Regions from separate parts of the Homo sapiens genome. Here regions 2, 3 and 4 are each linked to region 1. The links come from fine-mapping of genetic effects on gene expression. A gene starts in region 1. Each other region holds a variant in brackets. All regions are shown on one strand. Distances are from middle to middle. Region 1 holds the start of MAP4K3 (mitogen-activated protein kinase kinase kinase kinase 3). Region 2 overlaps MAP4K3-DT (MAP4K3 divergent transcript). Region 3 overlaps MAP4K3 (mitogen-activated protein kinase kinase kinase kinase 3). Region 4 overlaps MAP4K3-DT (MAP4K3 divergent transcript).

What was found.
Region 2: its variant is fine-mapped to the expression of MAP4K3 in lymphoblastoid cells (GEUVADIS, PIP 0.95).
Region 3: its variant is fine-mapped to the expression of MAP4K3 in whole blood (TOPMed, PIP 0.99).
Region 4: its variant is fine-mapped to the expression of MAP4K3 in lymphoblastoid cells (TwinsUK, PIP 0.90).

Annotation. Positions count from the first base shown.
Region 1 is chr2:39,433,325-39,441,248 of GRCh38, forward strand. MAP4K3 (mitogen-activated protein kinase kinase kinase kinase 3) reads right to left here and starts at 3,961. Exons shown (of 34, transcript NM_003618.4): 1 at 3,568-3,961. The coding sequence starts at 3,663. It overlaps MAP4K3-DT (MAP4K3 divergent transcript), which reads left to right and starts at 4,092. Exons shown (of 6, transcript NR_037875.1): 1 at 4,092-4,211. RefSeq lists an enhancer at 3,155-3,234 and silencers at 3,565-3,924, 3,995-4,214.
Region 2 is chr2:39,490,651-39,498,574 of GRCh38, forward strand. All of the region lies in intron 3 of MAP4K3-DT (MAP4K3 divergent transcript), which reads left to right. Among named protein-coding and RNA genes, the nearest start is that of MAP4K3-DT, 57 kb to the left of the region's middle. The variant T/C (reference allele first, on the strand shown) is at 3,674.
Region 3 is chr2:39,396,065-39,403,988 of GRCh38, forward strand. The region is part of intron 1 of MAP4K3 (mitogen-activated protein kinase kinase kinase kinase 3); the gene reads right to left. Among named protein-coding and RNA genes, the nearest start is that of MAP4K3, 37 kb to the right of the region's middle. The variant A/T (reference allele first, on the strand shown) is at 3,935.
Region 4 is chr2:39,467,859-39,475,782 of GRCh38, forward strand. All of the region lies in intron 3 of MAP4K3-DT (MAP4K3 divergent transcript), which reads left to right. Among named protein-coding and RNA genes, the nearest start is that of MAP4K3-DT, 34 kb to the left of the region's middle. RefSeq lists an enhancer at 1,649-2,149 and a silencer at 3,002-3,051. The variant C/CT (reference allele first, on the strand shown) is at 4,511.

The sequences.
Region 1 (7,924 bases):
TATTCTTTCAAAACTTCTTTTGCCTTATCCCATCTCCAGCTTTACTATCTCCTGCTTCTTTCTAGCAAAAAATCTAGAAAAACATAAGGACATCAAGACTTAAAGGGTAGGAATAATAAAAATTAAACTGGAAAACTGCCTGACAAAAGATGGCACAATGCATGTGAAAATCATATTATGATCTATTATAACTACCTAATTTCTCCAAGAAAACTTTTTTGAATGGCAAACCTATGGATCATTTTTTCATTTTTTTGGATCATGAAGCTCTTTAAGAATGCAATGAATGCTATAACCCATCTCCACAGAAAAACACAAATACATACAACATTAAGCCTATTAATTTCAGAGCACTCCATGGGCCTCCTGAGGCCCAACTAAAGAGCTTCAGTTGCCAGCTCCTAGGTCCCTAGGTAACCCAAGCTGCAGGCACTTCATGACAGATAAAGCCTGCAGAGTTACACGACACTTACAAGATACGACTTTAGACAGTGCAGATAAAATGTATATATGCATTGGCCTGAAAAAAATAAAGATAACTTACTTACTAAGTAAAATTTGAGTCATTTAGTCAATACCAAAAGAAGAAGGGCATATGATGGTAATAATATCTCCACAACAAAACAGCTCTGAGAGGTTGATTTCACAAGGTCACATAGCTAATAAATCCCAGATTGTCCACATCCTTGTTCAGTGCTTTGGAACTAAACCACGCCACCTTAAGTACAATAAATATGTTATTACATTGAGTAGGAAAACATTTTCAAAATAAAAATCTCCACCAACCTTCCAAGAATGACTATAATCGGATCTCTTATTTATTTAATCCAATCATTCCATTTTTAGCACGTAAATGCTGACAAATTAAGGAACAAATTATATATATTGGCTTTTGAAAACAAAATGTACTTCTCTCTAGCACAATTAATTTGTATAAATAAGAAAAAACTAAAACAGCAAAACAAATAACAAAAAAATGTAACTTTATAGAATAAACTTGATTATAGACAAAAACATAAACAAGAGTTTGGCAGGCAGGGGTACATGATGTCAAGAACCACATGAAGTTTCTCTGCTTTGGTCACTGGTATTGGAAGAGTCTGGCAGGCAGGGACCAAGCATCTATTATCTGATATCCACTTGGCAGACTACATAAACAGTGAGACCTTGTGGCACAGCAGGAATTAGGTATTCCAACTACTACTTAAAGATCTACACTGACTCAGAGTGTGGCTACAACTCAAATGCTAAACTAAATGTGTGCCTCAGTTTCTCCACTGGAAATGTAATACATTATCTGCCCATCTCCTATCTTTAGAGAGGCAGCACTGCCAATTGGTTAAGAATACAGTCCCTAATTGGTTCAAATTTTGGCTTTGCCACCTACCAACTTTGGCAAGTTAATCTCCTTGTGCCTCAGTTTATTCAACTGCAAAATGGAGTTAACAATAGCACCTATCTCACAGGGTTGCTGTTAGGATTAATTAGAAAAATCTTATAGTGCCTGGCAAGTAACAAGCATTCCATAAACATCAGCTAGTATTATCATTATTTTAAACGAATGACAAGATTAACCAACTTAGTATACCTCTATTACACTTAGGAAATTACAGGCCCTAATTTTTTTTTGCTTTTTAATCATGTGGCTTAACTACTAACTGTTCTTTTTAATATAGCAAGTACACAGCCAATTAGTCCTGTAAAAAAATTCACTGTATACCCTGCCACCTAAAACGTATACATTCATCGAGTTTTAGTTAACTTTTCATCGCAATATAAGCGAACTCCCCCAACCAGTCATAAGTGACTTGCATCCATCCACTTCTACTTTCACAGTCATCACCATATTCCTTAACACCATTATTCTTACCTAGACTATCACAGTGGCCTCCCAACTGCTCCATTCCACTCTTCATGCTGTAGTAGGGAGCTCTTTTAAAAACCTAAATCTAATGTCACTCCTCTGCTTAAAAGCCTGCAATAGTTCCCCATTGTCCTAAACAAGTCCGATCTCCTAATGAGAACTAAGAGGCCTGCAAGATCTAGGGCCACCCTCCCGCTCTGGCTGCTCAGGCTATACAGGCCTTCTTTCACATCGGGCCTCAGAGCCTTCACATATCATGCTCCCCTATCTGGCGTAATCCCCTCTCCCCAGTACCCTAAGCAACGCCTAATCATCTCTGAGATCTCAGCTGAAAGGCGATGAGCGTCTGATACCCTAAACAGGATCAGGTCCTCCTATTACATGCTCTCATAACCCTGATCCTAATACTCTTTTCTGCATCACAAAATTAAACGGCAATAATTATTTAAATGGCTATTTAATACTGTCCTTGTCCAAAAAAATAGAAACACTTAGGAAGATTTGGAACCAAGTCTATCGTTTACTGCTACAACCCAAAGTGCTTACTTGCCAAGTATCTCATACATTGTAGGTGGGCTCAATATATCTATATTGCATAGTAGGAAAAGTGATGAGATCCACGATGGTGAAAAGTAGATCATCCAGAAAATCAGACTAAAGCAGAACACTGGCTGCACTGTATTAAATATGTAAGTTACCACAGGCATTACACTGAAGAGTAAAAACCTGCTTAAACATGGGCAAAATAAAGTTAAGACTGAACTTTCCAATGCAAAATTAAGTTTCTTTGTGCATCCTCAGGTGTTATGTGAAACTGGAGGAGTTCAACTTCAGTTACCAGTAAGAAGATACACAACTAAATCAAGACTGCTGCCACATTTGGCAACAACCTCCTCTCTTCTTGGCAGTAACTGTGAGGCCAAGAGTTGAGTTGGCCAGGGAAGAGTGATTTATCTTCCCACATTTAGAAGTGGTCCCTCTACAACAGGAATGCTGTACCGCTACTGGACTTTGAATTCTAACCTTGTCAAACCAGTACCTTCCCTAAGTATTCAAGTCACTTTTTAAAAAACAAGTTTAAATGGCATCGCAGTCCAATTCGACTTAGAGAAAACAAAGTTGCTCTTTCCAAAAAAAAAAAAAAGTCATTACTCTGGAAAATTAAAAGAAACTGACAGGGGGATGAATAAGGCGCTAAAGGCTGAGAGCTGTCGATGGAAGATGGAGGTCGCTCAGCATAGTATAATAACTACCACCGAGGCCTGGTGGGCAGCAGCTCCCAACCTAGAGCGGACGACCCCAGGTTGGCGTGAAGCAGGCAGGTTTGACAACACCAGACCCCTGCTGTCCGGTTCGTCGCGCTGACCCTGCCAACGCAACAAACGCCCAGACCTTCTCTGCACTATGGATGAGCAGTGTGGCCTGCTCTCGTTCTGCCCTTCCCTGGAAATGCGCGCAAGAAGGGAGGTGGCAAAAATCATGTCCACCGGGGGGGCTCAGGTAAGGGCTGGGGAGGTCTCGGGGTTAAACATTCGGCCCTTTGTTCACCAAGGCAGCAGAGCCCTTGGCGTCCGCAGCTCCTCCTCCCCGACTGCTCCCTGGCGCCAGCGTCTCCCGAGGACAGGCGGCAAGGGCTCGGACGCCCAGGCTTGGCTGCGGGTCGGGATCCCACGGCCTCGGCGGCGCGCGGCCCCTGCCTTTACCTTGTAGACGTCGCCGTAGGTGCCGCTGCCGATGCGCTGAATCAGCTCGAAGTCCTCCTGCGGGTTCCGGCGGGACAAATCGAAGCCGGGGTTCATGGCGGGCCCCAGGTGCCCCCCGCCTCCCTCCCGGGCAGGGGAGGGGGGCCGCTCAGGGGGCCACACGGAGAGAGGGCGCCGCGGCCGGCTCCCGGCTCCCCCGGCGGTCACAATCACCCGGCTCCACGCTGCGGCCGCCGCCGCCGCCGCCGCTCCCCTCACGCCGCTGCGGACGACGACAAGCGGCCAATCGTCCCCGCCCCCCGCGGCCCGCCGCCGCGCCGAACCTGGTCACACCCACAAGGAGAGGAGAACCCTCGCAGCCCCTCGCTCGGGGTGAAACTCCAACATGGCTTCCGCTTTCGCCGCTCCTCCCCCTCCCCTTACTCCGGCTCCTCCAACCTCCTCCCCTTTTCCCGACTCCCGCCCGACTGCGCAGCCGCGATCCCGGAGGGAGCGCGCCAGGCCTGGCGCGCACCCGACCCCTTGCGCGTTCCGGCTCCGCGCGCCTGCCAGGCCGGGGCCGGCGGCGGAACAGCTTGGGACCCGAAACGCCTCGGCTTTTCTGCGGACCCGCGCCCGGCCGCTGCCGCCGGACGCTTGAAAAGGTTTGCCTGGCCCAGGGACCGGGGTTAGGACTAGCAGAAAGTGGCTTCTTTTCGTTTCTGATTCCCCTAACGACAAAGTTGGACCTTGGTCTATCTGGTCCCAGTTCCAAGCAGGTAGCATAGTGGTAATATCCAAGACAGCCAATGTCCCAGCCTTTATTATTTTAGAAGCAGCTACATGTAGGATACCATGGAGTGCTGCAGCCTTTCTGGGATTGCGGGGAGGGGTCACTAAACACACCGTGAGGAAAACCCCCAGGAAAAGTGAGCTGTGCTTGCTTGCCCCTGTCACCGACACTCGGACCCTTGGAGTTGGCCTGCCAGGGTGCAAAGGAGGGCAGGCCAGGAGGGCCGCGAGGGAGGTGTGTGCAGTGGGCAGAGCGTGAAAGCTCCGGGAGGAAAACACGCGGAACAGCTGCCCACCATCCCGCGTGGGAGGCAGGCAGAGCGCAGAACTAAAGCAGTGATTGACCTCCCTCTTCGAAGAGGGTTGGATTATCAAAGACGGGCGGGGACTGCGCAGGCTGTCAAGCAACCCTGTAAAGAAGGGGTGGAGAGTGGACTAGATCTATTACCGCACCTGAAATATAAACACGTGACGATCCGGAAGCTCTTTAGCTGTGACCTTACCTACCCAAAAACCCCACCCTGCTTAAGACCCAGATTGCGCGTCTTACATCTGAGCTATGTGGACTCCAGCTCCGATTGTTAATACTTGCCCAAGAAAGCTTGAGGGTAATGGAAGGTTATTTTTCTGTTCTCATTGAACTTCCCAATAGACATTTGCAGGAGCTTTAATCAATTAGGTGATGGCCACTTTGGCAATACCACGTTGGAGTTTTGCTTCAGAAATGCTTTCCTAATCCCCTTAGGCACCACACCTTCTAACCACTAATATTCCCTAATACCTCGTGGCTCCTGAGAAACTAGGTCTCATCAAACCTGTTAAGGATAAGTATAATAAATTAATAGTAGAGCAAACTACTTAGAGTTAACTGCTTCATACTTTTTCAAAAAATCTTTTGAATCCTTTTGCTCATAGGAAAATTGCATATGTACTAAATTCTCAAATTGTTTACTTTGAGTATCTGTTGACTAAATTGATGTTTGAAAATGGTTATCTCTTCACCTATATAAGTAGCCTTTCAGTTGTGTAATTTTTAATTATTAAATTTTAAAGCATCAGTAATATGAAAGTATCACTTAAATTATTGCCTTAGGAGTGCATATCATTGAATATCTTCTCGATGGATCTACCTTCAGGCTCTGGTATCTTGAGAAACTCCTGACTATAAATGTTATTCCATAGCCAAAGGTCTTGCTTTTGCTTGTTTAAGGTACTTGCCCAGGACCCAGATTACAGGCCTTCCTTCAGTTTGTCCACATTTGGAGAATTGTTTGGCATGTTTAGGCCAAGCGCAAGAATAATTAGCCAAGGATTCAGATAAGCAGACCTGACAAATTATCCCAAATGGAAGCCAGGTCTGCTCTTTTCCTCTGCCTTTTTTTTTTTTTTTTTTTTGAGAAGGAGTTTCGCTCTAGTTGTCCAGGCTTGAGTGCAAGGGTGCAATCTCAGCTCACTGAAACCTCTGCCTCCCGGGTTCTTAGCGATTCTCCTGCCTCAGCCTCCCAAGTAGCTGGGATCACAGGCATGCAACACCACACCCAGCTAATTTTTGTATTTTTAGTAGAGATGGGATTTCTCCTTGTTGGTCAGGCTGCTCTTGAACTCCCGACCTCAGATGATCCGCCTGCCTCGGCCTCCTGAAGTGGTGGGATTACAGGCATGAGCCACTGCACCCGGCCTCTGCCTTTTTAGTGCCAGAAAGCCAAATTCTCAGGACTGAAAGCTGCACAAGAAAGTTCTAATGACTTCAGTGTTTTGTTTGCTGAGATTATCGTCTGTCCAAATAACTTTGCATTTGCATCACTAATAGACTGCTTTCAAAAGGAAAAGACATTTCAGTAGGGCTAGAACAGTCTTTAAAGTTTTGTCTGTTCCATTTTGGCAGGGCCAAGCTAGTCCTTTTGAGAAGAGATGAATTTCCATGTAAGGGCCTGATTTGCCATGTGGGTTACAACATAAGTAAAACAACTGCTCACAAAGAAAATATTTTGTTTTTTGTAATATATGCATGTGGCCAATTCCAGTGCCTTTTCCCCCTGTTCTAACAATCCTCAGTTTTGCTAGAAGTAACACTAATGATCACACTTTCCTAGAATCAGAGAAAGAGCTTCCCTCTTCTATGATTAGAAGCATTCTTAGAAGTCATCTAATCTTTTTAACTCAGGAACTGCTTCTACAGCATCTCTGCTGGATTTGCTGCTGCTTGAATACTTTCAATAAAAGGTGACTCATTGCTTCCCAAAACAACCCACCTCGTTGTGATACAGTGCTAGTAAATGATCATAATAACTAGGAGAAAAGTAGTAATTTCTAACATTGCTAAGTGCTTACAAGATACCAGGAATGGAGCCAAGTATTTTTCATGTGTTATTTCATTTAATTCGCACAACAACCTAATGACATAGGTAATATTATCTCCATTTTATGAGGCACAGACAGATTAAACTGCTCAAGGTAACACAGAAGGCTGAAATTTGAACAAAGGCAGTATGACACCAAGGCTAGATTCTTAGCCACTAGTCTATACTCTGCTTATATACAATATACTGTAAAAAATTTCTCTTATGGTAAGCCAACCTCTACCTCCCTGTAATGTATTTAGAGGCAATGATTATTAGATTCTGGTGGTATTGAATACAGAAAAGAAAAGCCACAATGCCTTCCCTCAAGGAGTTGACAGTCTCATAAATAGTGTGAGAAGCACAGAGAAGGGACATTAATGCAGACGGGAGGAAGATTTAGGAATGACCCCTTGGCTGGGCGCAGTGGCTCATGCCTGTAATCCCAACACTTTGGGAGGCCGAGGCGGGTGGATCACCTGAGGTCAGGAGTTCAAGACCAGCCTGGCCAACATGGTGAAACCCCATCTCTACTAAAAATACAAAAATTAGCTGGGCGCGGTGGCACGTCCCCTGTAATCACAGCTACTCGGGAGGCTGAGGCAGGAGAATCACTTGAGCCGGGAGGTGGAGGTTGCAGTGAGCTGAGACTGCACCATTGCACTCCAGCCTGGGCAACAGAGGAAGCGTCCGTCTCAAAAAAAAAAAAAAAAAAAAAAAAAGGAATAACCCTAAAGCTGAACCTTGAAAAATGCATAGGCAGACAAGGGAAAGTGGTGCATGACAGGCTGGCTGCTTAGCGCCTTGAAGCACCTACCCGTTTAAGCATCACACAGCAAGGAACACAAGAAGGCCAAGATAGGCAGCAGTCCCCACCTGCCAGCATGTCCAGGCCATCCTTCTATTGCCCCATCCCCCATGGGTTTCTGGCTTAGGAACCCCTTGATCCCCTGCACAGGCTCCCAATTTCATCCTCGACCTCTTGTCTGACAACTCACTGGAGCCCCTTCTTTGGCCTATTAACCTCAGCCCTCCTCATATAACATAACCACCACTCACATTTTCAGTACATTAGCTGCTCTGGAAACAGGATACTGAGCAAGCCTTAGCTCAAAAAAATGCCAGAAGCAGGTCATCCACCAGGGGAGGAAAATCACACAGAGAGCATGTATGTGAAATAATATGGCACATACAACAGACAATTGTGCTTAAATTCTGAAGACAGAGGGAGATGGTGGCAATGGAGC
Region 2 (7,924 bases), 57 kb after region 1:
TCTCCTTTTGACCTCCATTCTCTCTACCTCTGTTATATGATATTGTGCATTATATTTGCTGTGGTTTGTTTATATCTCTCTCAGCAGGCTGAATGTGTTTTGAAGGTGGAGTTCATGTCTTATTCGTATCCCCAGGGTGTGGTGTGCAGTTGGTGGTTAAGTCTGAGGAATGAATGAATGGCCCAAATCACCGAAGATCTTTCAGAGGTGGCAGTGGGGTTTCTTTTTTTCTTTTCGAGATGGAGTCTTACTCTGTCATCCAGGCTGGAGTGCAGTGGCACAATCTCAGCTCACCGCAACCTCTGCCACCCAGGTTCAAGTGATTCTCCTGCCTCAGCCTCCCGAGTAGCTGGGATTGCAGGCACGCACCACCACGTCTGGCTAATTTTTTTATTTTTGGTAGAGATGGGGTTTCACCATGTTGGCCAGGCTAGTCTTGAACTCCTGACCTCAAGTGAACTACCTGCCTCAGCCTCCCAAAGTGCTGGGATTACAGGCGTGAGCCACTGTGCCCACTGGCAGTGGGTTTCTGATGATAGGATAGTTTCATGAAAGTTAGCTTAAAGTACAAAAAACTTTTTTTTTTTCTTTTTTTGAGACAGTCTCATGCTCTGTCCTCCAGGCTGGAGTTCAGTGATCTTGGCTTACTGCAACCTCTGCCTCCTGGGTTCACGCCATTCTCCTGCCTCAGCCTCCTGAGTGGCTGGGACTACAGGTGTGCACCACCACGCCTGGCTAATTTTTTGTATTTTTAGTAGAGACAGGGTTTCACCATGTTAGCCAGGATGGCCTCGATCTCCTGACCTCGTGATCTGCCCGCCTCGGCCTCCCAAAGTGCTGGGATTACAGGCATGAGCCACCGTGCCCAGTGAAAAAGCTTTGATCCTTTGTCTTCAATTGCACCTATGAAAAGGAAGTTTCGTATAAAAGCTGATATAAATGGCTAATAAAGCAGAGAAATAGCTTAAAATTTGACTGTAGACATTTGCTATGTATGATTAATATGTATCAGTTTACAGTTAATTTTAGGAAAACTTAAATTTTATAAATTGCCAAGAAATCACCCATGAAAAACTAATTTTCACTTAGCGGTTTAATTTTTTAACATTAGGATTTTTAAGTTTCGCTAGTCTTATCATCTGGGACACTGGAATTTTGTCTTGTTGGAATTGCTGATTAAACAAAATAATTCTTCAAAAGTGCTTAGCACAATGTTAGGTAAATAGTAAGCACTAAGTAAACATTGGCTTTATTATTATTAGGTGGTCCTATACTATGATTCCTCCTATTTATATCACGTGTGTCTTGCTGCATATTTAAGGACGCTCCCATCTATATGTTTGGACTAGTGCAATAGTAAAGCTGCCAGCTCAGGTGAAGAAAACCATTTAAAAATTTAAAGTTAAGCACATGATGGAAAATTCTTGAATATGTGGTGAGTTAGGTATAAAAAATATAGGGGGATTGTATTGTTGAATACAAAAAAGCCATTAGACTATTTTAAGAATGCTCTCTTCTGTCATTAGGGCTTGGTTATGAATAGTATATCACATGCATGAAAGGAGGTGGTGGCTAGTTTCATTTCCCTAAAACATGTTTCAATGGTAAATTAGAGGCAGCTGTGGTTTACTGACGCATAAACCCAGTGAGGTCTATGATAACTAGTATATATTTACAGTTTGACTCATGGTGCCTGTCAGGCTTTAATCATAGGGGAAGAAGTGATAGTACTTAGACTTCACTGTTTAATCTTCCGTTCATTTGTTTTCCAAGTTTGTTTCAGTCTGTGGGCAGGTTCCCTTTTGATTGCAACATGCAGTCCCTATTTCTGCAGTTTATCTTCATTTGCCATTTTGAGAGGGCTATGAAAGTCCTATGATAAGCTCCTTGTTCTCCAAATCCATGCATATAAGTCTCATCGAGTTGGATGCATTCTAAAGACATTTTGAAATCACATCAACACTTTCAGATCAGCAAGTTATTTCTTAATAAATTACTGTCTTAATGTTAGATGCTATTTTAAAAACACGAAAGAGAGCAGTTTCCAAATATGTGTTACTACTTCCAGGGAATTGTAAACTGGAGTGTTTAATTAAAAGAAGGCCCTAAATTTTTATTATGCTGTCACTGGATATTTGAATAACTAGCTGTAAATGAGTTCTAGTTGTACAAAAGTGATTTTCTAAATCCAGTTGTCCCTATTTCAAAATATAGTTCTAGTTCCTGGGTGAAACTGAAAATGAAATGGCCATGTCTTTATAACTAAAACAAATTAGAGGGTTGCAGCAATAAAATGAACCCACAGAGGGGAAAAAAACCCTTTGAATCAGGTTTTTATTTTCTTCTCCTGAACTGATTGGGTAATTTACTCAACTAATTTTGTCTAGTCATTAGGAAGTTAATACTCCATTCTATAATTTCCTTCCACTCAAGTGAGCAATACTGGTGCATATAATTTGGATTAAGAACATTCCTCTACTCTTACAAATATTTGGATATATGCCTTGAATATGCTTCCTCATTTAGGCCACAGAAATTTATTCAAAGACAAATCAATCAAAGATAATAACATTAACTACTATTTATTAAGCATCTCCTTCATGACAAGACTTTTTCCCATATTGAGATATAATTGACAATTGAAAATTGTACATATTTAAAGTGTACAACATGATGATTTGATATGCATATATATCCATGCATATATATCCATATCCATATCCATGCATATATATGGATATATATGCATATATATGCATATCAAATCATGTCGTACACTTTAAATATGTACATATTTCAATTATGCATATATATGCATATATCCATATCAAATCATATATATATAATATGCATATATATCATATACATATCCATCACCTCACATAGTTACCATTTTCTTTTGTTCTCTCTCTCTTTCTTCCTTCCTTTCTTTCCCTTCTTTTTTATTTTTTGGTGGTGAGAACACTTAAGATCCACCCTCTTAGCAAATTTCAAGTATATAATATAGTGTTGCTAATTGTAGTCACATCGTTGTAGAATACATCTCCAGAATTCATTCATTTGGATAACTGAAACTCTGTAACCCTTTTCCAATATCTCCCCATTCCTCTATCCCTCCAGCTCATGGCAACCAACATTCCACTCTCTGCTGTTCTAAGTTTGACTACTTTAGTTTTTACATATAAGTGAAATCAACACAGTATTTGTTTTTCTGTGTCTCGCTTAGTTTACTTAGCTTAATGTTCTTCAGGTTCATTCATGTTGTAAATGACAGGATTTCCTTTTGTTTTGAAGGCTGCATAATATTCTGTTGTATATGTATACCATATTTTCTTCATCCATTCATCTGTTGATGGACATTTAGGTTGTTTTCATATCTTGGCTATCATGAATAATGCTGCAATGAACGTAAGAGTAGAGATATCTCTTAGAAATCCTGATTTTCCTTTTTTTTTTCAGACAGTCTTGTCACCCAGGCTGAAGTGCAGTGGCATGATCTCGGCTCACTGCAACCTCCGCTTCTTGGGTTCAAGTGATTCTCCTGCCTCAACCTCTGGAGTAACTGGGATTATAGGCATATGTCACCATGCCCGGCTAATTTTCTTATTTTTAATAGAGATGGGGTTTCATCATGTTGGCCAGGCTGGTCTGGAACTCCTGACCTCAGGTGATC[T/C]GCCCGCCTCGGCCTCCCACAGTGCTGGGATTACAGGTGTGAGCCACCGTGCCTGGCCTATTTGATCATCTTTTACAGCTTAGGGAATTAAGGTTTAGATGTGGCACAGGACAGAAACATACTTTGAAGATAGGTCTGTTTGACTTCAAAACCTGTGCTCTTTGCCAGGTGCAGTGGCTCACGCCTGTAATCACAGCACTTTGCAAGGCCAAGGCAGGAGGATCACTTGAGGTCAGGAGTTTGAGACCAGCCTGGCCAATATGGCAAAACCCTGTTTCTATTAAAAATGCAAATATTAGCCAGTCATGGTGGTGTGCTCCTGTAATCCCAGCTACTTGGGAGGCTGAGGCACGAGAATCACCTGAATCCCGGAGGTGGAGGTTGCAGTGAGCTGAGATCGTGCCACTGCACTCCAGCCTGGGTGACAGAGTGATAGTCTATCTCAAAAAAAAAAAAAAAAACAAAAAACAAAAAACCCCCACAAAACCCACAAAACCAAACCAAAAAACCTGTGCTCCTTACTGTGCTCTCCTGCCTCTCAGTGCGAGATAAACAGAGTGGGCAAAATAGCCTATGATGTCATCATCCGCAAGGCCTGTTGCTACTGTGTGATGCCTGCTCCCTAGATGACCTCCTGGGGGGGTGAAGCGAGAGGAAATCTGGCACCAAGCTGGTTGAGGGGCAGAGCGAGAATGTCTGGGCTTCCCCCACCCAGCTTGGAATGTGAGTGATGCAAATCATCTCATCGAAGGCTCAACTGCAGCCAGGAGACTCCTCCAGTGATGATGAGAGTGTACAAATGAAGTGCAGGAGCGGGGGAGCCTTCACACACCTCCAGCCCTTCCTGCTTCTTGAAATACTCATATCCTCTGGCAGAGACTAGCTACAGAAATCCATGTCCACTTACTCACAGCCTGAAAGAAACCCACACAGTGGACCAGGAAGGTTGTTGCATGGTAATTAGAGCTACTATTGAATTTCTATTGTGCATCTTCTCAATTAGGCACAATTACCACATATAAGAAATGAGGAAATTAAGACTCAGAGGAATTAGGTGAATTGCCCAAGGTTATTACATAGCTTATACCTGGCCAACCAGGGTTTAAACATTGTTCTATATCCTAATCCAAGACCCATGTTCCTCTCACTACTCAGGTTTATTTCTTTCGCACAGGGATATTACAAAGTCATTATATTTCCTGATTATATTTTTGCTGCTGCTGTATGACCATCTCGTTTCTTGTCACTGACTTTATCCAAAAGCAAGAACATGGTATGGAATTTTGGGGGAAGCAGTTGAAATGAAGTGTTGGAATTTCAGAGCTTGCATTACTGGATTATGTGTGGATTGTTGTTTGTACTGCCTCTTTCTTCCTCCTGCTACCTCATATAGGTGCTTGATATCTGATTATTACAGTCTTTTTAGGGGTTCTTGAACATACTCACTTGTAGAAAAGTGCTGGTTAAAATCATAACAGGCAGACATTTGGGTTCTTATAGCCTTGCAATAAATGGAAGGAAGTAACTTTTGGGCTTATGAAAATGTATACTGCAAGGTTTTTCTTTCTTTCTTTCTTTCTTTCTTTCTTTCTTTCTTTCTTTCTTTCTTTCTTTCTTTTTCTTCCTTCCTTCCTTCTTCCTTCCTTCCTTTCTTCCTTTCTTCCTTCCTTCCTTCCTTTCTTCCTTTCTTCCCTTCTTTCTTTCTTTCTTGAGACAGGGTCTCGCTCCATCACCCAGGCTGGAGTGCTCACTGCAAGGATCCTCCTGCCTCAGCCTCCCAAGTAGCTAGGACTACAGGCATAGCCACCATGCCTGGCTAACTTTTCTTATTTTTTGTTTTATGTAGAGACAGTATCTTGCTGTGTTGCCTAGGCTGGTCTCAAACTCCTGGCTTCAAGGGATGCCCCCACCTTGGTCTTCCAAAATTCTGAGATTATAGGCACGACCCACCATGCCCAGTGGTTTTCTTAAAGTTCTCTGCAAGGTGTAGATAGTTTCATGAGTAAGATGATTAGTCAGTACAGTAGCAACATTAGGTAATTGGTTTTGCCATTTCGAGCTTGTAGCAAATTATCCATTCTTATATGACAAAGCCTATGGGACAACTGGAGGACTTGAACTGTTTCTCTTCAGTGCCCGTAAAGAAGGGACTGAAGCTTCATAAATCTAGTCCTTCACTCTCCTAGCTCTGATCCTGTCCTTTCTGTAAGTAATGATCATATTGCCTTCAGTAGGTGTTTGTCAAGTCTGTATTTTGTTTTAGAGACAGGAGCTCGCTTTGCTGCCCAGGCTGGACTCGAACTCCTGGGCTCACTTTATCCTCCTGCCTCAGCCTCTCTGAGTAGCTGGGACTACAAGCACTGCCATGGAGACCAATTTGTCAAGCATTTTAATACCATCTCATCACTGTAATGATCAACACATGTGATCTAAAAATCTTTTACATGGCAGTGGAAAGGGCTTGAGCCATCTCCGTATTAAAACCCAGGTGGTATCCTCATCCTTTAATCTTGAAATGTTGAAAGAGTTGATTAGCTGTCCTTGCTAGCTATCTCTAGGAAGGATAGCTAATAACTGTTTTGCTTTTGCTTTTGTGTGTGTGTGTGTATATATATTTATATGTATATATGTGTGTATATATATACAAAAGCAAAAGCAAGACAGTATTTGAAATTTGAAGACATTGATTCTCATAACCAGTCTATTTCAGGATTAAATCACATAACCACCAATCTCTGCCAACCCACTTTCCAGTAACCACCCCACCTCCAATTTCCTGTAAATAGCAAACACTCTGTAGTATTTCATCTACAGGGAGCACTGTTGAGTAGCTGGAGTAGTAACAGTATTTGCTTATTTTTTTACTTGAGAAGGCTTTTTGTTTGTTTTGAGATTGGTGTGTGTTGGGGGGGTCTCACTATGTTGCCCAAGCTGGATTTGAACCTCTGAGCTCAAACCTCCTGCCTCAGCCTCTTGAGTAACTGGGACTACAGATGCGTCACCACGTCTGGCTACTTGAGAAGTTTTACAATTTTTATGTTTTAAAAGCAGGAAAAGAAAAAAATCTAGGACTTGTCTCTGTCATAACATCATCCATAAAAAGTGATTTTAAGATGAAGATTTCTCCTAGAGAGATACAAGCTGGTGGATCTAGCATTCAGCTCTCACTTTCATTCAATATAGTTGTCATTTTAGACCCAAGCTTTCCCTAGAGATAGTGATTCCACCAGGGGAAGCAATATGTGAAGTTATTGCAAGAAACTTTTTGTGTGAAATTGTGACTGCTGCCAGAGATGTCATATGTTTTAGTTAACTTTCTTCCCAGGAACCAAGAAAATTTCCCAAGCCCCAGATAAATACAGCTGGAATGCTATTCAGAAGTCAGTAGCATGGGGCTGAAGAGAGAGACTGAATTTTACACACTCCATTTGTTTCTGGTTGAGATAAACCCTCTGTTCTATTTTGCTTACGGTAAAAATCCAATTCACTTTGAAAGTTGTAAAGCCCAAAGAACTCAAACAAATTTACAAGAAACAAACAACCCCATCAACAAGTGGCCGAAGGATATGAACAGACACGTCTCAGAAGAAGGCATTTATGGAGCCAACAGACACATGAAAAAATGCTCATCATCACTGGCCATCAGAGAAATGCAAATCAAAACCACAATGAGATACCATCTCACACCAGTTAGAATGGCGATCATTAATAAGTCAGGAAACAATAGGTGCTGGAGAGGATGTGGAGAAATAGGAACACTTTTACACTGTTGGTGGGACTGTAAACTAGTTCGACCATTGTGGAAGACAGTGTGGCGATTCCTCAGGGATCTAGAACTAGAAATTCCATTTGACCCAGCCATCCCATTACTGGGTATATACCCAAATGACTATAAATCATGCTGCTATAAAGACACATGCACACTCATGTTTATTGCAGCACTACTCACAATAGCAAAGACTTGGAACCAACCCAAATGTCCATCAATGATAGACTGGATTAAGAAAATGTGGCACATATACACCATGGAATACTATGCAGCCATAAAAAAGGATGAGTTAATGTCGTTTATAGGGACACGGATGAAGTTGGAAACCATCATTCTCAGCAAACTATCGCAAGGACAAACAACCAAACACCGTGTGTTCTCACTCATAGGTGGGAATTGAACAATGAGAACACTTGGGCACAGGAAGGGAAACATCACACACCGGGGCCTGTTGTGGGGTGGGGGGAGGGGGGAGGGATAGC
Region 3 (7,924 bases), 37 kb before region 1:
CTCACTCTGTTGCACCAGCTGGAATGTAGTGGCATCATCATAGCTCACTGCAGCCTCTTAACTCCTGGGCTCAAACAATCTTCCTGCCTCGGACTCCGGAGCAGTTGGAACTACAGGCATGCACCACCACACCTGGCTAATTTTTAAATTTTTTAATGTAGAAATGGGGTCTCACGATGTTGCTCAGGCTGGTCTCAAACTCCTGACCTCAAGTGATCCTCCCACCTCGACCTCATGAAGTGTTGGGATTATAGGTGAGCCACTGCACCCGGCCTACAAGTATTTGTATACCAATAGCTTAATATTCCATAGTCCACTTAGGTAAAATAAGATAAAAGACAATTCAGTTTACATTTCTGAACTTCTACCAATATCTTTTACTCAAGACAATGTGCTTTAACTTCAAGCCCCCAATTTTTTTTTTTTTTTTTTTTAAGCAGAGTCTCACTTTGTCGCCCAGGCTGGAGTGCAATGGCTTGGCTCATTGCAAGCTCCGCCTCCTGGGTTCACGCCATTCTCCTGCCTCAGCCTCCCAAGTAGCTGGGACTACAGGCGCCCGCCACTACGCCCGGCTAATTTTTCGTATTTTTAGTACAGACGGGGTTTCACCCTGTTAATCAGGATGGTCTCGATCTCCTGACCTTGTGATCCGCCCGCCTCGGCCTCCCAAAGTGCTGGGATTACAGACGTGAGCCACCGCGCCCAGCCCCAAATTTTTAACTTATGAAAGTTTTTCATAAAACCATTTTAGCAAAAATACTAGCCCAGAAACAGCATCTCTCTTCACCTCTTATAAGAGACCAAAGAGTCATTCTTACTATCTAAGGTAAATACATCTCAATTTAAGAGATCTATTACTTGATCTAAAAGACCATTTGCTTTTGAATCATTTAGTAGTATGTACTGACTATTACTGGACTTAGCTAAGTTGTAACACATACCAATAAGTGGCTGGATTTCACATCACCCCTGCCACAATAAATGACAACTTTTCATCAATTTAAAAACTTGAAATTTCAAGTCAAAATAAAGAAATGATTCTTTTTAAACTTGCTGAGGTTCATCATGCTACATATCTAAACCAGTAAAAATGGATAGTGTAATGTCTCTCAACCAAGACTTTGGTACTAAAAAAAAATCCTATATAGTACTCACCAACTCCATAAAATGTGCTTTAAAACAATATTAAGAATTAGTGACTACAAACATAAGAGAATTCAGTAAGATAGTAACCTATGAAAAGAATATACAAAGATCAATAATCTTCATATATACAACATATTATAATACAAACAACAGCAAAAATAAAGACTTCATTTCCAATAGCAACTAAATATTTGTATATTTTCACTTAATCACAAATGTGCAAACTTAAAGAAAACTTCAAAAACCTTTAAAGAAATGAAAGTAGAATTGAATGAAGAGAAAGTTATAATCATATTCTTAGAGAGGCTAAACATCATAAAGGTATCAACTCTTCTTAAGATATTAAAATTCATACAAACCCAATAAAAGTATCAATTTTTTTCCTCCAGGAACTAGAAAGGCTGATTCTAAAGATCTTATTGAAAAATAAACAAGCAGTAATTGCCAGGAAAACTCTGAAAATGAAGAGCAATGAGAAAACAGCTCTAACAATATAACTTTATATGGCCTCAAGAACTAAAAGTATACGAGTGGCAAATGAATAGACAGACCAGTGGGACAAAATACAAAGTCCGGAAATACACCCATATAAAGAATTCTTAGAAACAGAGGAGATAATCCAATGAAAAAATGGACAAGTATGTGAAAAAGAAAAGAAATACAAATGGCCCTTGAATATATGATAAGCTGAAAACAGAAATGCAAACAAAAAATATACAGTGAGATAGTGTTTCTTATCAGATTGGCAAAATCTGATTTAAGTCCAACCACTTGTCAAGCTGTAGGGAAAGGGGGGGCATTCCAAGGACCCTCATATATTGCTGCTGAAATGCAAAATGCAAGATATATATACAGGGAATCCAATAATATCAATCAAAATTACAGACGCATGTACCCTTTCACCTAGCAAACACCCTTCTAGGAAACGAAACCATCACGAAACCTACATACATAAGAAATACACATGTACAAGCTTAATCAGTATGAAATTGCCTGTTAATAGCAAAAGACTGAACAAATTCAAGTGCAAAAGGACTGGCTGAATTAACTACAGCATATACCAACAAACGAATACTATATAGTAAAAAAAGAAAAAAAAAGATAAGGAAGGTCTTTATATACTGACTGATATAACGAGAGAGCTCCATGGAATAAAAATAAAGAAACCAGGGTGCAAAGTATTAGTGTGAATTAGCCTTTTGCATAAAGTCTAAAGGAATAAACAGAAATTAACAAAAATTAATAAAAATACAGTTAGTAATACATAAAATGAACTAAGGAGAAGGGACAGATGGGGATGGGTGGGAAACAAGACTTCTCAGGGGATACTTTTTAAAATAGCACTTTGCATTTTGAAACGTAAATAAACGCATTCTTTATTAAAATTATAAATTAAATTTGAAATAAAAAGATAAGAAATTGGTGGCATGGTTAATATTTGGCCCCAAAAATTTACTAAGCCATGGTGTAAGCCTTTCCTTTGATGGTTTCAGGAATAATTAAAATAATAATAATAATAATAATAATAATAATAATGATGATGATAATAATTGGCCAGGCATTGGCTCATGCCTATAATCCCAGCACTTTGGGAGGCTGAGGTGGGTGGATCACTTGAGGTCAAGAGTTCAAGACCAGCCTGGCCAACATGGCGAAACCCTGTCACTACCAAAAAATATGAAAATTAGCCAGGTGTGGTGGTGCACACCTATAGCTCCAGCTACTCGGGAGGCTGAGGCAGGAGAATCGCTTGAACCCAGGAGGTGGAAGCTGCAGTGAGCTGAGATCATGCCATTGCACTCCAGCCTGAGACAAAGCAAGACTCTGTCTCGTTAAAAAAAAAAAAAAAAAAAAGAATTCTGTGAAACATAAACATCAGAAATGCAATCACACTTATCAACCTGCTCACACGAAATTCCCAATCTATCAATTAAAACTAAAGAACGTACTATGCTTTGAAAACGTATGTTGTACTATGTAACAAAAAGCCACATTGTTTACCTTGTTCAAGCTATAGTTGTAATTTATATGTCACTAAGAAGCCTGCAAGAAGAGTACCACTTGTGACAGGCAGTGAATACTTCAGATGACACAGACAAGGTTTTTAATAACAGCCAGTTCAGTGCAGGTCAGGCTAGGATTATGCTAAAACTGGTAGGCTTAAGGTAGTGCGCAGCAGCCTTCAATCCAGTCAAAGAATGAAAGCCTCAGAGGAAAGGCCATTTCCAATATACATCACATCTCTTTAACAAAATAAAAACACATGGGAACCATCTCATTTCCATCTTTGAGGTGACCTGGAGTTTTGTTCAAGCCAAGAGGAAGACAAAAGTCTACATGTAGCACCTCAGTCACATAAATGAGTACAGCTGATTTTCAAGTATTTTAGGAACTTAAGTAGTTAAATGCAAGGATTTGAGGCGATATTTTAGTGAAGACTGCCTAGCTACCTAGCAGCAGGGTCAGACAAGCCTGGCAATGACTTTTAGAGAATCAGAATCTAAGTCACAGCCATATCACTCAGAGAAATCTGAGTTCTTACACAGAAACTATGCCAAAAAGTTAAGGGCTCCTGTTACAAGCATACATTTTAGTGTTTATTACAAGAGACTGCTGTAAGTAGGATCTTTGTTCTCATATCTAACTAAGATCTAGCCAGGTACATAATATTTATATGGGGGAGGGTTTAATGTGGTTTAAAAAGAGGATATTTTATATTTCTGGAAACATTTAAAGGCATGCTCACAAAAAGAAAAACAAGTTGGTAAGTTTATAAGACAATTTCCCC[A/T]GACTTCAGTAAGCTCAAAGCTCAGACCCATATAACCAACTAGACAATGCTACCGACATCCATGTACCTCAAATTAATCCCCCCAAAAACCCTGCTATACTTTAGGTGTAGTGATACCACCCAACATCTCGCAACTGCCCAAGGGAGAACGCTATAACCCAACACCTTAACCCTCCCCATCCCTCCATTCACAGAATTATAAATGTCTGTTGTATGTTTTTAACTTCTCTGTTTCTATTACTAGTGCCCTAGAGTTCAGGCCACCATAATCTCTTCTCTGGAATACTACAGTCTCCAGTCTTGACTCTACCATCCTTGCATCGAAGCTTTCACATTTATTAGCATAAGTTGCTCATAATATTTTAAAGTACTGCTAAATTAGTAGGTATGCTCTTTATATTTGCAACAATAATTAACAAATAATATTTATGCCTTCTCTTTTATTTCTTGGGTGTTCTTACCAGGTTTTTCTTTTTTACATATCTTGTCAAATGTTGAGCTTAGGTTTTATTGTTCCCCCCTCTCTTTCTTCCCCTTCATTTAGTTCCTGTTCCTCCTTATTATTTACATTTCCAGTGCCTATGAGTTTACTCTGCTCTTTTTTTAATTCCTTGGTGTTCATATCTAATCATTTTATTTTTTATTTTTTAATAAGTGAATTTATTATTATAAATTATGACTGGAAGTCCTGCTTTATTTATATCTATAGCTTTAATTGTTTTTCATCAAAATAGATATTGTATAATTTTCACTGTAATTTCCTCTTTAACTAATGAGTAATACAGTAATTTTCAGCTTCCAAAAGAAAGGTATATGGCCAAAATACAGTAGCAGAAAGCAGCTATACCCTTTCACCTAAAAGAAAAGCTTTAAAAATGAACAAAACATATAACACTTAGTCTTTAGACATGAAATATCGGTTAGTTCTGAGACAGGAGTGTGACCCTGTCTCAGAAAAAACAAATAAATACAAGAATCACTGTAGTGTGCTACAGTGATTCCTTAAAAAAGAAAAATAAAATCCTACAGAGTTTTACAATTGTCCCGGCTTATATTCTAGAGACAGTTTCCAGGCCTCAGTGCAGGGCAAGGGAACCCAGATGGAGCCTGATGGTCACCCTAAGTTGAGATGATGAAGCTAAGAATACAGGAAAATGAAGAAAGCTAGAATTCGTAGGACAGAGTACCAAAACAGAGACAACTATACAGACAGGAAGGGGAGGGGGGTGTCCCATCTTCATCTCAAAATTTCAGCTCAATACCAATCCCCATATCCTTGTGAGGAAACACACAAGGCCTAGAGCAGAGTCACCAGAAAGGAAGAGAGAGAACAATTACCAAAGATTTCTAAGGGTTGGGAATAGTTCATGCTCTCATCGGCCAGACTGGAAAACTTCATAATTTAAGAGACACCAGGTAGAATACTCAGAAGAATACTGTCTTAGTATTGGGGAAAATTAGCTGTAGGCTACCAGCTGCTCTGTTCCCACCTAACTGAGCTTCGAAATAATACCTGCAAGGCCAGGCGCTGTGGTTCATGCCTGTAATCCTAGCACTTTGGGAGGCCCAGGCAAGTGGAGCGCTTGAGCTGAGGAGTTTGAGACCAGCCTGGGTGACACGGCGAAACCCATCTCTACAAGAAAATACAAAAAAAAAGCCAGGCATGGTGGCCCGTGCCTGTAGTCTCAGCTGCTTGGGGAGCTTAGGTGGGCATTTCGCTTGAGCAGGAGAGGTTGAGGCTACAGTGAGCCAAGATGGCAATACTGCACTCCGGCCTGGATGACAGGAGTGTGACCCTGTCTCAGAAAAAACAAATAAATACAAGAATCTGTTTCTGAAGTAATTTCACTGCACCACAGAAAAAAGCCCTAGAATACTAACAGGAATACAAAAATATCCAGGGCACAAAGTAGAATTCACAATGTCTGAAATACAATAGAAATTAATAATCATGTAAAAAAGTAAGAAAATACAACCTATAAGGTAAGAAGAAAAATCAATAAAACAGATTCAAAAACAGAATTAGTAGAAACATTAAACTAGCTATGATAACTACATTACATATGTGCAAGAAGTGAAGACTAAGCCAGTTAAATAGAAACACGGACTACGAAAAAAACCCAAATCATATTAATACATGAAAACTAAAATAACTGAGATTAAACTACAATGGATAGAATAAGAGCAGATCAGACACCAGAAAAGATTAGTGAACTTGAAGAAAACGGTAATAGAAACTACAGTCTTTTCTCTGTCTGGAAAAAATGAACAGAGAGCATCAGTTAGTTGTGGGATAACTTCAAGTAGACTAAGAAACAGGTAAAGAGCAAAATTTTTTTGATTAATTGCCAAATTTTTTCCAGTTTTGAAGAAAACCATAAACCTACACCTCCAAGAACCTTCATGAACTCCCAGCAAGAGAAATGAGCAGAAAGCTACATTAAGACATATCATAATCAAATTGCTTATAAAGAGAAATATATCAAAATTTGTGATACACAGCTAAAAGAAACACAGCAACAAATGCTCGTAAAAGGAAAAAAAGAAAGGAAACAGGAAATCAGTGACTTCAGCTTCCTCCTTAAGAAACTAAAGTAAAGCAAATGGCCAATGAACCTCAAGTAAGCAGAAGAAAGAAAATAAGATCAGAGTGTACCTCAATTAAATAGAAAATAAAAACAATACAGAAAAATCCATTAAACCAAAAATTGGGTCTTTGAGAAAAATCAATAAAATTAAGGCTCTGTTACCTCTAAGAAGATAAACTTCTAGCCAAACCAATCAGAAAAAAAGACAGGCCAAAAAGAAAAAAGAAAGAAAAAAAAAAGGGAGAAGACACAAATTTACCAATGTTGGGAAGTAGAGACATGACATCACTACAGATTGTACACATATTAAAAGGATAATGAGAAAATATTATAAATAATTTTATGCCATTAAATTTCAACTTGGATGAAATGAATACATTCTTTGAAAGACACAAACTACCAAATCTCATTAAAGAAATAAACTAAATAGCCCTATATTTCTAAAAGAAACTCAATCTATAGTTTAAAATGCCCAATAATAAAGCCTCCAAACCCAGATGGCTTTGCTGATAAATTCCACCAAACACAGAAGGAAGAAAATATTTTACAGAAACTCTTTCAGAAAAATGAAAAGAATACTTCTCAAGATAGGGGCAGAGCAAGAGGGCCGAACAGGACTCCACCCACTGACACCCAGCAGGAACACCAAATTTAGCAACTATCTACACACAAAAAAGCACCTTTATAAGAACCAAAACTCAGGTGTGCACTCAAAGTACCTGGTTTTAACTTCATATCACTGAAAGAGGCACTGAAGATGTCTGAAAGAGGCACTGAAGATATCACTGAAAGAGGCACTGAAGGAAAGGCAATCTTGAATTGCCAACGTCCCCCATCCACCCACAGTGGCAGTGTGGCGCAGAGAATGTGTGTGCTTGAGGGATGGAAAGCACAGTGATTGTGAGACTTTGCATTGAACTCAGCTGACACCCGACCATGGAGGGAGTATTTAGATCAGCCCTAGCCAGAAGGGAAGTGCCTGTCCCAACAGTCAGAACTTGAGTTCTGGCAAGCCTCCCCACCATGGGATGAAGTACTCTGCAGCCCTCAATAAACCTGAAAGGCAGTCTAGGCCACAAGGACTGCAACTCTTAGGCAAAGTCGTAGGGCTGAGTGGGGCTTGGAGCCAGTGGACTTGGGGGGCATGCAAGCTATTATGACACCAGCCAGGGCAGCTAAGGGAGTGCTTGTGCCACCCCTCCCCTAACCCCAGCTAGTGACTCTAAAAAAGATCCCTGTCTTCTGCTTGAGGAGAGAAGGAAGAGTGAAGAGGACTCTAACCTGCATCTTGGATACCAGCTCAGCCACACTAGGATATAAGACCAGTTAGGATCGTGAAGCACCCATTCCAGGCCCTAGCTCCCAGATAATATTCTAGACACACCCTGGGCCAGAAAGGAAC
Region 4 (7,924 bases), 35 kb after region 1:
GAGCCAAAGTGAGGACTCACTACAATAGAGGAGACAAACTAGTTTCAGAAAGAAAAGGCATCTAGGCTCTTTTCAGAAGAGGCTTGTATAAGTGAAAAATAGAAAAACATCCTTCTATGAGTCATCATTCTCATTTTCATCAGCTCCCTGGGCCTGCTTATTTTCCTTTGATGTTTACAAAGGGACATGTGATTACATAAGGGAAGGGTAAAGGGTATAATAAACCAGGGTTGTAAGAGAAGGACCAACAGAAGGAAGAGACTTGAAACCCAGCTGGGAGCAGACAGGGGAAAGGGCTTCCTTGAATTGTCTTCATGGTTTTGTGAGAGGTGTGTGAACCAGAGCAACTCCATCTTGAATAGGAGCTGGGTAAAATGAGGCTGAGACCTACTGGGCTGCATTCCCAGACGGTTAAGGCATTCTAAGTCACAGGATAAGACAGAAGGTCGGCACAAGATACAGGTCATAAAGACCTTTCTGATAAAACAGTTGCAGTAAAGAAGCCGGCTAAAACTCACCAAAACCAAAATGGCGTCAAGAGTGACCTCTGGTTGTCCTTACTACTACACTCCCACTAGCGTCATGACAGTTTACAAATGCCATGGCAATGTCTGGAAGTTACCTTGTATGGTCTAAAAAGGGGAGGCATGAATAATTCATCCCTTGTTTAGCATAATACGCCCCTTGTTTAGCATATCATAAAAATGGGCAACCAGCGGCCCTCAGGGCTGCTCTGTCCATGGAGTAGCCATTCTTTTATTCCTCTACTTTCTTAATAAATTTGCTTTTGCTCTGCACTGTGGACTTGCCCTGAATTCTCTCTTGCGCAAGATCCAAGAACCCTCTCTTGGGGTCTGGATCAGGACCGCTTTCCTGTAACAGTCCCCAGGCACAGAAACTCTGAGGGAATCAGACACTTAGTTGTCTTTATTGCTCCCTCTTCAGTATATAGAACAGAGCCTGGCACACCTAGGTGCAAAATAAATATTTCTTGCATGAAAGAAGTCCACAGTGCAGTCACTGGCTTTTTTAGATGGTTAGCTCACTAGAATTTCATTTTTTTTTTCTCCTCCTCCTTTACAAAAAGTTTTCAGACAGACTTTGGGCCTGCTGGGGCATTTTCAAAAGACAAATAGTCCTGCTGCTGCTCCAGAGGACCCACCGCCCACCTCCCAGTCAGAACTATGTCTCTCTGTTCTTGTTGGAAAGGGGGACACAGCTTGCTTTGCAAGAAACTTGCATAGGAAATGGTGCAATCTGGGCTGTTTTTCATCTTCTTTCAACCTAATTTCCTAAGTTAAAAGAAAGAGAAATTTAAGGAATCTTAGGAATATGAAACTTCTCTGGAATGATCTTTACTGAGCTGTGTTTGGAATCAGCTGAAATCCTGAAGGACTGTCAAGCCAGCCAAGAATAAAAGAAAATAAAAAATAACTTAAACAATCCTAGCCAAAATCTGAAAATGATATCTAGAGCAGCTGCTATTTTTTTCTTTCCCAGAATGGTTTGCCTTTCCCCCAGTTTGTAATTGTTATAGGATTGTTTTAGGTTATTTTGGAGTAGAAAAGAAGAAAGAAGGAAGGAATCGAGTGTTTTGGAAGTAGTATGATGCGGTTAGTTCTACCTTTTAAGCTTTATAATTTACACAGCTGTTGTACACATGTGAACTCCCTCTCATTAGGATGCTGCTGACTGGTACAGGAAGTTTTTATTCATGGCATTCTCCTTAGGAGTTTGTTTATGGCATTTAGGTCCTCTCCTGCCTTCCCTCCCCACCCCCACCCCAAATCAATCTATATTTGTAATTTATGGATGATCTCTCCAGGGCTTAATCTGTGGGGTAAAAGGCTGTCTTATCTGCTCTACATTTACTGAAAAAGGGTGCAAGAAAAACCGTATCTAGCTGGCCAGATGGGTAGGGAACACTTGGTTGCACTAAAAATTTTCCAGCAATGGTATCCCCAGCTTGCCCTTTTGCCCGAATAGTGCACAAAGTCAGCAAGCATTTCCCCTGAAGTGTCCACCTCCACACGGCCAAGACTGGCTTGGCTGGTTACCAGAGGCACTGAGAAGATTGAGGAGGCAGCTTATAGAATACTTTGCTTGCATCCTCGTTCTCATCCCATTGTGAGGTAACTGCCCCACAACTGAGCTAGATAAGAGAAAGGAACTGAAACTGATTTGCCCAAGGTCAGTCTGGGTGGATATTGAGCCTAGAATAAAGCACAGAATAGCTGCACCTGGGGCTGGCCCAGGGCATGCTCAGATGAATCACTGGCTTCACCAGAAATGCAGCTAGTCTGGAATGCAGTGCAGGGGCCCAGATGCCTGACACTGAACAGTAACTTAGAAAGGGGAAGGTCTTTTCCTACACATAGTGAAGCTTCAAGGAATCTTTAAGAAAATCACATAAGAAAGATGAATAAAAACTTTTTCTTCCTCCTACTCCTTCAACCCCTATTTCAGGTTCTTCCTTAGAGCAAACACTGATTTCAAGTTGGAGTGTGTCTTTTCATCTTTTTAGTTATTTATATATCTTTATTGATCTATCTGTGTACATACATCTGCATCTACATATGTGTGTATATGTATCTATCTATCTATCTATCTATCTATCTATCTATCTATCTATGTATCTATCTATCTATCTATATCTATACACAGACAGAGAGAGAGCCAGTGAGGGAATTTTGCTTTGTTTTGTTTTGACTGAAATGGTATCACACAGTGGATTGTTCTTCAACTTTGCTTTTTTTTTTTTTTTTAAGTTTAGCCATATCTCTCAGAGATTTTTCTGTGTCAGTACATTTTAGTTTTTTTCAACTGCTGCATGCTCTCACATAAGTCAGATGCATCACTAAGTGTCAGTCTTTCGATGATCATTTAGGTTGCTATGCTATCAGTTTTTACCACTATAAATAGTACTATAGTGAAACAACCTTGTACCTGCTTCCTTTTTGCACATATGCAAGTATCTCTCTACAGTGGATACCAAGGTGTGAGATTGCTGGGTCAAATGATAGGCGCATCCAAAGTGTGAAGGATTGCTGCCAATGTGTACTCCAAAAAGGTTGGCCAGTTTATATTCCCAGGAATACGGTAAGAGAATGTCTGTTTTTCCAGATGCTTCCCAACACATCAGTCTTTCTTATTTATTGTCAATCCAATGTATAAAAAATAGCATCCTCTTCTTTTTGTTTCCCCCCAAAACCAGTAAGACTGAGCATCTTTTCAGATGCTCGTTTGCCATTCATGTTCCTTCTTTGTGAATTGCTTATTTATGTTCTTTGCCCATTTTTCAATTTTGTCTTTTTTCTGGGGACATATAAAGGCAAGTCCTTTGCTACATACATTACAATACTTTCACCCAGTCTCTCCTTTGGATTTGAATCTCATTTTGTTGAACAGATGTAAAGTTTTGATATAGTAAAATTTATTAATCCTCTTCTTTATGACTTTGGTATTTTTTGTATTGTTTCAGGAGGCCTTTTCTACCCATGGTCATAAACATGGTCTCACTGCAATTCTGGGAAATACAAAATTTTTAAATGAAGTATTTTTATGGTGGTCCAACCCCCCATCATCTGTTTGTCTGAATTACTGCAATAGCCTCTTAACTAGTCTCCCTGCTTCCTTCATCGCTTCCTTATAGTCTGTTCTCAACACAACAGCCAGGGTGATTCTTACAAAACAGTCAAATCATGCCATTTCTCTGAATCAAATCCTCCAATAGCTTTTCATGTCACTTCAAGCCAAAGTTATGACAACGGTGCCACATGCATCCTCTGCACACCATGACCTTTTTCACCTCATTACCTACTACTCTTTTCCAGTTCTTGACACATACTAAGTTCTCAATAAATATTGGTAGAATTCATAAATAAATTTTATCCCCATTCATTTCGGGTAAAAAGTATTGAAAATGTTGGCATTGATATGGGGAAGCTCCCATACACTGCTGGTAGCAGTGTAAATTTGTACAAACCTTTACAATTTATAAATACTTGAGGATGAGCAGATCCTTCCCCTAGGCAATGCTCCTTCTAAGTATACACTCTAGAGAGGTTATTTTATGTGTGCATAAAGAGACTGTAGGAAAATACTTATTATAGCCTTGCTTTTAATGGTAGATGGGAGGAAGGAAACAAAGAATGAATGAATGAAGAAATGGTCAGAGGACAATTTATCCTAATAAAATATATACAAAATTTACTAACTCATGAATGAATGTTTACTTTTGTAGAATGTCTTTTTTAAAAAATTCCATAGAGGGTTTTTTTTGTGTGTTTTTCTGTATGTAGGCAATATTATGAACAAATATATAGATATTTTCTGATGTCAAAACATTCTTATATTCTTGGGGTAAATTCTATTTGGTTATGAGGTATTTTTATTTTTTAAAATACATTCTTGAATTTAATTGACTAGGATTTTATTTAGAATTTATCTTTTCCTAAGGTTTCTAATTAGAGATATAGGGTCTTTTATTTTTTTCTTTCTTTCTTTCTTT[C/CT]TTTTTTTTTTTTTTTAAGTGAAAGCAGTTTGTTAAGAAAGTAAGGAATAAAAGGATGGCTACTCCAGCCGGGCGTGGTGGCTCACACCTGTAATCCCAACACTTCCCAACACTTTGGGAGGCCGAAGCAGGCGGATCACGAGGTCAGGAGATCGAGACCATCCTGGCCAACATTGTGAAACTCTGTCTCTACTAAAAATGCAAAAATTAGCTGGGTGTGGTGGCACATGCCTGTAATCCCAGCTACTCGGGAGGCTGAGGCAGAAGAATCACTTGAACCAGGGAGTCACAGGTTGCAGTGAGCCGAGATCACACCACTGCACTCCAGCCTGGTGACAGAGTGAGACTGCGTCTCAAAAAAATAAAAATAAAAATAAAAAATAAAATAAAATGGAATGGTTACTCCATAGACAGAGCAGCCTATAGGATCTTTTCAATTCAGTTTATAAGTGAGTTTGGTATGTAATATTTTTACTGCCATTTGTTTTGGGTGTTAGGGCTACCCTAGAATCATAGAGTGAATTGGATAGTACCTCCTTTCTTTCCAATTTTACAAAGTAGTTCCTGTATGATAGCTACTATTTCTTAATTGAAAGCTTGATAAAACTCATTTGTAAAAAAACATTTGAGGCCAGGCTCGGTGGCTCACGCCTATAATCCCAGCACTTTGGGAGGCCAACGCAGGCAGATCACCCGAGGTCGGGAGTTCGAGACCAGCCTGACCAACATGGAGAAACCCCGTCTCTACGAAAAATACAAAATTAGCCAGGAGTGGTGGTGCATGCCTGTAATCCCAGCTACTTGGGAGGCTGAGGCAGGAGAATCGCTTGAACCTGGCAGGTGGAGGTTGCAGTGAACCGAGATCGGGCCATTGCACTCCAGCCTGGGCAACAAGAGTAAAACTCCATCTGAAAAAAAAAACAAAAACACTTGGGCCTGATATTTATTGATAAGTAATAATTTTGATTGATTGTTGTTTGATCTATTACTGATTTTTTTAAATCTATTCAGGCTCCCTATTTCTTCTTGAGTTTATTTTGATAATTTGTATTTGTTTAAAAACATTTCTACTAAATCCATGTATACAAGTTTATTAGCATGAGGTTGAAAAATAACATTTTCTTTCTTTCTTTCTTTCTTTTTTTCCGAGATGGAGTCTTGCTCTGTCGCCCAGGCTGGAGTGCAGTGGCGCGATCTCGGCTCACTGCAACATCCACCTCCCAGATTCAAGCAATTCTCCTGTCTCAGTCTCCTGAGTAGCTTGGATTACAGATGCTTGCCACCACAACCATCTAATTTTTGTATTTTTAGTAGATACGAGGTTTCACCATGTTGGCCAGGCTGATCTCGAACTGGCTGGTCTCAAACTCCTGACCGTGTGATTTACCTGCTTCGGCCTCCCAAAGTGGTGAGATTACAGGTGTGAGCCACCGTGCCCAGCAATATTTTCTGAAGAATTAAAAAGCTTGTATTTGTAGCCAGGCACGGTGGCTCATGCCTGTAAAACCCAGAACTTTGGGAGGCTGAGGTGGGTAGATTGCTTGAGCCCAGGAGTTTGAGACCAGCTTGGGCAACATGGCAAAACCTCCTCTCTACAAAAAATACAAAAATTAGCCGGATGTGCTGGCACATACCTGTAGTCCCAGCTACTCAGGAAGCTGAGCTGAGGAGGATCGCCTGAGCCTGGAAGGTTGAGGCTGCAGTGAGCCTAGATGATGGCACTGCACTCTAACCTAGAAGACAGAGTGAGACCCTGTCTCAAAAAAAAAAAAAAAAAAAGTTGTATTTATAAATTTTACTTGAATTGTTTATATTACCTTTTCTTTCCTAATATTTTTGTGCCTTCTCTTGTCTTTTTGATCAGCCTTAATAGAAGTGTGTCAATTTAATTAGTTTTTTCAAAGTACAGTGGTCCCTTGGTATTTGTGGGGGATTGGTTCCAGGACACACTTGCATACCAAAATCCAAGGATGCTCAAGTCCTTGATGTAAAATGCCATACTATTTGCATATAGCCTGCACAATTCTCCTGTATGCTTCAAATTTTCTCTAGGTTACATAAAATACCTAATATGATATAAATGCTATGTAAATAGTTGTTATGCTATATTGTTTTTATTTGCATATTTATTGTTGTATTGTTATTTTTTATTTTTCAGAATATTTTCTGTCTACAATTGGTTGAATCTGTGGATGTGGAAACTGCAGATACAGATGGAGAGCCGACTATACTAGCTTTTTGTTTCATTTTTCACTTCTGGTGTGTGTGTGTGTGTGTGTGTGTGTGTGTGTGTGTGTGTATCTGTGTGTGTGTTTTATTAATCTCTGTGCCTGCATGTTAGTTTCTTCCTCTTTATTTGGATTTTCACTAACATTCTTTTCAGCTTCTTCAGTTGGATACTTGTTGCCAATATATTTTTTTTCATTCTAAGAATTAAATAAATGGGCCAGGCGTGGTGGCTCATGCCTGTAATCCCAGCACTTTGGGAGGCCAAGATGGGTGGATCACAAGGTCAGGTGTTTGAGACCAGCTTGGCCAAAGCTGGTGAAACTCCATCTCTACTAAAAATACAAAAATTAGCTGGGCATGGTGGTGCGCGTCTATAATCCCAGCTACTCAGGAAGCTGAGGCAGGAGAATCACTTGCACCCAAGAAGTGGAGGTTGCAGTGAGCCAAGATTGCGCCATTGCACCCCAGCCTGGGCAACACAGCGAGACTCCATCTGAAAAAAAAAAAAAAGAATAAATGAATGTATTAATCACCAAACTGCTCTTCATCAGAAACTCTTAGCAGTGGTATGTTGAGGTCTCCCTGCCTACCGTATATGTCTCTTAACTCTGCGGGTGCAATATTTTGTCATGGGTCAGTTTAGCAATATTGTACTATTTCCCAATTTTCTAAGTGTGTTCATTTCAGAGTTTATCCTATTCATTGTTCTTTCTTTCTTTTAAAAATTTCTATGACTGAGCTGGACATGGTAGCTCACACCTGTAATCCTAGCACTTTGGGAGGCTGAGGAGAGTGGATCACCTGAGGTCAGGAGTTCCAAACCAGCCTGGCCAACATAGTGAAACCCTGTGTCTACTAAAAATACAAAAAATTAGCTGGCCATGGTGGCAGGCGCCTGTAATCCCGGCTACTAGGGAGGCTGAGGCAGGAGAATCTCTTGAATCCATGAGGCGGAGGTTGCGGTGAGCCAAGATCATGCCATTGCACTCCAGCCTGGGCACCAAGAGTGAAACTCTGTCTCAAAACAAAAAAAAACTTTTCTATGACTGTATTTTTAATTCTCAGGATTTTAATTTGTTATTCTTCATAATCATAGCTATTTTATTTCTGACGGTTCGTGCTTCATAATTTTTATGAATGTTATTCCTCTGCTTAATTCCTTTGAAAGTCTTGAACAAATTCTTT